Homo sapiens: one gene and its partner. The protein of the gene in region 2 purifies or fractionates together with the protein of the main gene of each other region. This does not show direct contact. Each region holds a gene or a part of one and is shown on either strand. Other genes may lie near its edges. The genes, in order: DNAJC10 and MATN3.

What was found.
Region 1: the proteins of MATN3 (region 2) and DNAJC10 purify together in Homo sapiens (co-immunoprecipitation; one large-scale study listed by IntAct). This does not show direct contact.

The regions. Positions count from the first base shown.
Region 1 is NC_000002.12:182,789,127-182,792,308, reverse strand, and holds part of DNAJC10 (dnaJ homolog subfamily C member 10 isoform 1 precursor), read right to left. Parts: 3' UTR 1-3,182. UniProt on the Homo sapiens protein: Endoplasmic reticulum disulfide reductase involved both in the correct folding of proteins and degradation of misfolded proteins.
Region 2 is NC_000002.12:20,002,632-20,006,459, reverse strand, and holds part of MATN3 (matrilin-3 precursor), read left to right. Parts: intron 1-149; coding exon 150-716; intron 717-1,653; exon of another isoform or gene 1,654-2,440; intron 2,441-3,173; coding exon 3,174-3,299; intron 3,300-3,828. UniProt on the Homo sapiens protein: Major component of the extracellular matrix of cartilage and may play a role in the formation of extracellular filamentous networks.

The DNA of each region.
Region 1 (3,182 bases), about 160 Mb from region 2:
ATAACCAACTACTGTAATCCTCATTTAATAAACATAGACTTCAGATAGTGCATTTAATTCTAATGAAACTTGTGCAAGATTATAGCATGGAGATAAAAAAATAATTGTTCACTGATGGTATGCAAGCATTTGTGAGGATTACTTATAAATTGACTTGAGCATCTCTTTTTTCTTTAATTTACTCTTTGAACATGTATTGAGTGTCAAGATGATGGCATGAAAAGTGAACAAGATTGTGTCCTGGCTTTGAAAGTTCATGCACTCTAGGACAGGGAAACATACTAATCAACAGGACTGAACTTATAAGGTGTTTCAGGATCCAATTCTCTGATTCTCTAGATTATTGCATTGTTTAGAGTTAAATTTAAAATGTGTATCTTCAATATGTTGTAAAATGCAAAACATAACTTTTAAACGCTTTAAACATCCATTGTTGAAATGTAAGATGCAATTTAGATTTTTTAGTATCTATTTCCATATTGCAATTAATTAAACGATAACTGCAAATCTTATCATGTATTAGAAACATGTGACTGAAATGACTAAACTCCTGTTTTTGAGGTGTCTTATCCACATTAGAGTGTTATAAAATGTTGTATACAGTTTGTATGCCCAAATACTGGATTTATTAAACAGAAAATAAATGAGAGGTAGAATAAAGTAGTCATTGTTGGAGCCAGGTTTCACTTGTCAAGAAAGAGTTCACAGAGGCCAGTTTGAAGAATATCTTGAAACTCATTAAACTGAAAAAGTTTTGACCAATATTTTGCTAACAACTATATAATCATTATGGACAGAGCTACTTTCCCCAGCATAGTTTCAGAAACACACGTTGACTTCTAGCTGGGCTGAAGTTTTAAAGTTTAAGATGTTTATATACTTTTAAAATTTCATTTTAGAGTAACCCATTTTATACTAATTTGGCCAGAATAGTATTCAAAAATATTGTGTATAAATGGCCACCTGAATACATATCTCTCTTAATTTTTAACTTTTGAGGCTGGGTGAGTTTCTATGTTAAGGTTTATTCACACCAAGGCATACTAGTTTTTGTTGCCAACTAGTTATGATTCAGGAGGACTGAAAACTAAGCTCTAGAGTTACTTTAATTGGAGAATTACTGCTTGGATTTAAATTTTATGGCTTGATCTCATAATGAATGAATTGCCCTACTTCTGAGGGAACACATTTCATGCAGGGTCGATCTCTGTGGGGGTATTTATCCACTAAATTTATGTAGTGAATATTTTATCCCAAATGAAGAAATTAAAAAAATATTTACTTGAAAATAAGTCATAACATTTAAATATCAAAATAGTGAACAAAGAGAGAAGGAGCATAGACAGTTGAACAGGAGGGTAAAAGAGAATATGGTTACTTGGAAGAAATAAGAGAATAAAGCAAAGGAAAAGTCAGAAAATAAGTCAGCTTAGTAGGCAATGTAACTGATAAGTAAGGTTATTTGATTTTAGTGTTAGAAGGCATAATTATTACTATTGTAATTTTTTTTTTTTTTTTTGAGATAGAGTTTCACTCTTGTTGCCCAGGCTGGAGTACAGTGACGTGACCTCAGCTCACTGTAACCTCTGCCTCCCGGGTTCAAGCGATTTTCCTGTCTCAGACTCCCAAGTAGCTGGGATTACAGGCGTGCACCACCACGCCTGGCCATTTTTTTTTGTATTTTTAGTAGAGACGGCGTTTCACCATGTTGGCCAGGCTGGTCTTGAACTCTTAACCTCAAGGGATCCACCCGCCTCGGCCTCCCAAAGCGCTGGGATTTCAGGTGTGAGCCACTGTGCCTGGCCCTTACTATTGAATTTTAGAAAAGGGAAAAGGTGCTTCATTAGATATTCGCTTTTACATCTGACATTTTATATAGCAGGTTTAAACACATTTAAGTATTGTTCAGTTCTGTAAGACCAAGGTATTAGATTTGCAGTTTTCTCAAGTTTCACATGCAGAAAGTCATGTAAACTAAACGAATAAGCTAGAAGCATTTAGCACCCAAAGTACTTCAGCAAATCTTGAAGTTTATAAGTATAAAATAAATTTCTTCTGCTCTTGAAGACCTAACAATCTAGTTTGGAAGATAACATATGGAATAATCAGAGAATAATATAGGACTAAATAAAGCTTTTTCTTATAAACAAATACTTAGTTTTGTGGTAGACAATGAGGAACTTTTAGAAATTCAGAAATCAATGTGAAGTAAAGAAGTCAGCAAAGGCTTTACAGTGGAAGTTGGATTTGGGATTTAAGTTAGATTTTGGGTTTACAGGATGAGGTGAAGGATGAAAAGGGCATCCAAATGGGAAAGTAATACAAAGCATGGTATGAGAATGTAAAATAACCAACTTCCCACAAAGTACTTTGATATGGAAAAAGTAATAATTTAAAGACTCTAAAAGTACAAATCAAAACTCCAATGGGATATGAACGCACACTCATTGGGATACCTACTATTTAAAAAAAATGAGTGTTGGTGAGGATGTGGAAAAATCAGAACTCTTGTGCACTATTGGTGGGAATGTAAAATGGTGCAGCTGCTATGAAAAACAGTATGGAGGTCCCCCCATATTAAAAATAGAATTACTATGATATAGACTTACACTTCTAGGTATATAGCTGAAAGAACTGAAAGCAGGGTTTCTGATATTTGTACACCCATGTTTATAGCAGCATTATTTGCAATGGCCAAAGGGTGAAGGCAGCCTATCAACGGACGAATAACAAAATGTAGAATGTATATATAATTGAATATTATTCAGCCTTAAAAAGGAAGAAAATTGGCTGGGTGCGGTGGCTCACGCCTGTAATCCCAGCACTTTGGGAGACCAAGGCAGGCGGATCACCTGAGGTCAAGAGTTCGAGACCAGCCTGGCCAACACACTAAAACCTTGTCTCCGTTAAACATACAAAAATTAGCCAGCGTGGTGGCACATGCCTGCAGTCCCAGCTACTTGGGAGGGTGAGGCAGGAGAATCGCTTGAACCTGGGAGGTGGAGGTTGCAGTGAGCTGAGATCACACCACTGCACTCCAGCCAGGGGGACAGAGTAAGACTCCGTCTCAAAACAAGAAAATTATGACACATGCTACAACATGGGTGAGTCTCGAGGACTTACGCTAAGTAAAATAAGGAATCACAAAAAGATAAATGGTGTATGATTTCACTTACATTAAA
Region 2 (3,828 bases):
CCCGATGGTCTTGGGGAAGGTCGCAGGCAGTGGTGATGTTGGGGTCAGGAGATGCTGCCTTGCCTGGCCTCCTGGAATCCCAGAGTTCTCTGGAAGTGAGGATTACTGCATTTCTAATTGTGGTCTGATCATTGCTTGGTCTTTTGCAGGTGTTTGCAAGAGCAGACCCTTGGACCTGGTGTTTATCATTGATAGTTCTCGTAGCGTACGGCCCCTGGAATTCACCAAAGTGAAAACTTTTGTCTCCCGGATAATCGACACTCTGGACATTGGGCCAGCCGACACGCGGGTGGCAGTGGTGAACTATGCTAGCACTGTGAAGATCGAGTTCCAACTCCAGGCCTACACAGATAAGCAGTCCCTGAAGCAGGCCGTGGGTCGAATCACACCCTTGTCAACAGGCACCATGTCAGGCCTAGCCATCCAGACAGCAATGGACGAAGCCTTCACAGTGGAGGCAGGGGCTCGAGAGCCCTCTTCTAACATCCCTAAGGTGGCCATCATTGTTACAGATGGGAGGCCCCAGGACCAGGTGAATGAGGTGGCGGCTCGGGCCCAAGCATCTGGTATTGAGCTCTATGCTGTGGGCGTGGACCGGGCAGACATGGCGTCCCTCAAGATGATGGCCAGTGAGCCCCTAGAGGAGCATGTTTTCTACGTGGAGACCTATGGGGTCATTGAGAAACTTTCCTCTAGATTCCAGGAAACCTTCTGTGGTAAGTTGGTCAGTCTTTGCTTCCAACTAGAAAGGATGTTATATTCAGACATTGTGTACCCAGAGAAAAGAGTATTATTCTTTTTTGGTGGAAATTTAATGAAAAACTTAAATATATCCAATGCGTGTGTGTGTGTGCACGTGTGCATGCGCGCGTGTGTGCGACCAACCTAAACACACTCTATTGGTTTAGGAATATAGAGCTGCATTATATGGAACTTGGTTTGCTCATAAAATCTTCATGTTTGCGTTAGAACTGTGAAGGTCTGCAAATATCCAGGATAAATGACCCTGCTGTTCCCTGTCAGGGTCAGGAAAAACAAAACTCAAGATGCCTCTCCTGTCCCCTCTGCCCCACCACTACATTTTTTTCCCCTGATACATATTTTTTTAGTTTTACCATCTCTAGATCTAACAGAACTCTGTTTGTTCTCCTGCAGAAGACAGGGAGAAGCGTCTGTCCTTGGGAGAGTCAGCAGGCCTCTATTCCAATGTCACCGTCAGCCCGAGTGTGCATTTAGTGAATGCTCTGGTTTTCAGACTGGGCTGTTTATCTGATTACTCTTTGTTGAAGAACAGGATTCAGGGACCAGGCAGATTAGGGTTTCAGCTCACTTGAAAGAAAGCAAGATGATCTTAAGAAATCATTCTGTTAACTCTGCTACTCCTTCCATCCTTTAGGATGGAATTTGAATAAGGACATGCTAATTTTATTGGAATTTTTAGCATGAATTGACCAAATCTAGGACTACAGATCCATTCAATGCTGGAGTTTAATTTTAGTCACTGATCAGAATTATGATCTGTGGGACTCATGCTTTATTTTTTTATCATCTGGAGATAATCTTTTGTTCCCTCTATGTGAATATCCAAGCAGTTGTGGACAAATTTCTAGTTCAGGTGAATTTTTAAACATAGATATCTTTTTGCAATATAATTTATTTCACACTTATTTATTCAGCATGCATTTATTGATCTCTGATGATACAAAGATAAAGGTAATCCCTCCATACCATTAAGTAACATTCTGGGGGTGGGGGTGAGACAAACAAATGAACCAATAATTAATTACAATTATACATTTCAAGGAGACTTTTAATCTAGGTTAATGTGAAACGCAGCCATCAATGGTTTGTCAGGAAAAGGGAGATGAAGTCTTGCTCTGGGGCAACGTTTGGCCTCATTGCAGTCAGACTTGGCTGGGATCCCCTTGTCTTTCCTGTCCCAGGACACTGGGCTTTCACAAGCCATCACTGGCTTTGGTGGCATCTACTTGGCATTCGTTGGCTTCCAAAAAGAAAGTGGCTTTCTTTCTCCCAGGAAATCACCCTCCCACTCCATGCTTGTGGGTGAGAGCCTCTCCATCAACATGCTGGTCTGTGGCAAAGTTGGGTTTCAAAGCTAGCACCTGGGGTTGGGCTTCGAAGGCTATAAAGTAACAAGTGGTGAGTGGCAATCTTTTCCTTCTGGTACAAAAGACCTGCTTGTTCTGGGGGAAAAACGTCCTCTCTATGGAAAAAAGACTGAGCGGCAGCTTGTTGTAGTCAACGGGTTGGAAAGATCATTCCATGAAAAGGCCCTTCTTGGGAAAATATTAGCCTTGTCCTGTTGCCAAGGGCAGTGGAGGTTGGGTTACCTGCCACAGGAGGGCCAGCCTCCTTCAACAGGCCTCCTTGGTTTCTCAGAAATGACTTAATTCATTGATTCATCTTTCAAAAGAGGTCACTAGGAAAAAAATATCCAATGAGATATAAATGGCTCCAGGAGCAATAAGATGGAGATGTAGTTTAGCTAATGTAATCTCATTTATTTTGTTCTTTTCTTTTTACCTGTTTGTATTAGCATATGAGTTCACTATGGATTTAGCGTATGGATGACTTCACCCACCTTACATATTCAGAAGACAGTTACCCGAACTGTCCTCTACCATTTGCATGTTCAAATATGTACCACTGCCCACCTGTGAGTTCGTTCTAGGCTTAGACCCAGACTTGTGTGAGAATTCTGTTTAGACATAGGCTATAGAACCTTGGAAATCAGATTCTGGCTACAATGGGACAACTAGCTCACGTCACTTCAGGCTGTGCATTTATTGTTCTCCCATTTCTTGTGGTGGGGAAGCACAAATCTTTTTTTCATGGGGAGGCGGATAAGCCAAATAAAACATCCAATTGCCTGGCCTATGTAAGTGTTTGGCTTCAGCTCCAAACTCCAAATTCCCTTTCTCCCTTGAGAAAGTCTATATAGCAAGATGTGTACTTTTAAATTAGCAACAATTTCTAGTTTAAGAGTAGCATTGCTAATAAGCCAGAGGCAGAAAACAAATAACCATTTTTTTATAGTGAAGTAAAGATGGACTCGGAAAGGAGCCCAGAGAGCAATGTCTATTGACATGGGAGACGGTATCTGAGATGTTTCCTAAGTGTCAGTGCTGACTGTTGTAAACTTCCTCTCACAGCGCTGGACCCCTGTGTGCTTGGAACACACCAGTGCCAGCACGTCTGCATCAGTGATGGGGAAGGCAAGCACCACTGTGAGTGTAGCCAAGGATACACCTTGAATGCCGACAAGAAAACGTGTTCAGGTGAGGCCTGTGTAGGGGGCCGTGACTGAATCAAATACTTGGGAACCTATGCTCCAGGTTTTGGACTGGCCTTGTGCTTTGACTCTCTGACCCCTTTTTACCTAACTGCCTTTTGGCTGGTTTACTGGTGTTCATCAGCAGTTTTCCCTGAAAAGGAGCTTAGGGAGAAAAGTGAAATGATAGATAAATCAGCTTATTTCCATACTTTGTAAGTTTTAAATAAAATCGTAGGAGAAAAGGCTACTAAGAAAGAGGTCCAGGCTGAGTGCAGTAGCTCATGCCTATAATTCCCACATTTTGGGAGGCTGAGATGGTAGGATAGTTTGAGGCTAATTCGAGATTAGCCTCGAGAACATGGTGAGACCCCATCTCTACAAAAAATAATTTAAAAAAAAAAGCCAGGTGTGGTGGTGCATGCCTGTAGTCCCAGTTACTTGGGAGGCCGAGATGGGAGGATTGTTTGAGACCAGGAGGTCGAGGCTGCAGTGAGCTATGATAATGCCTCTGCTGCACTGCCACAGAGGGAGAC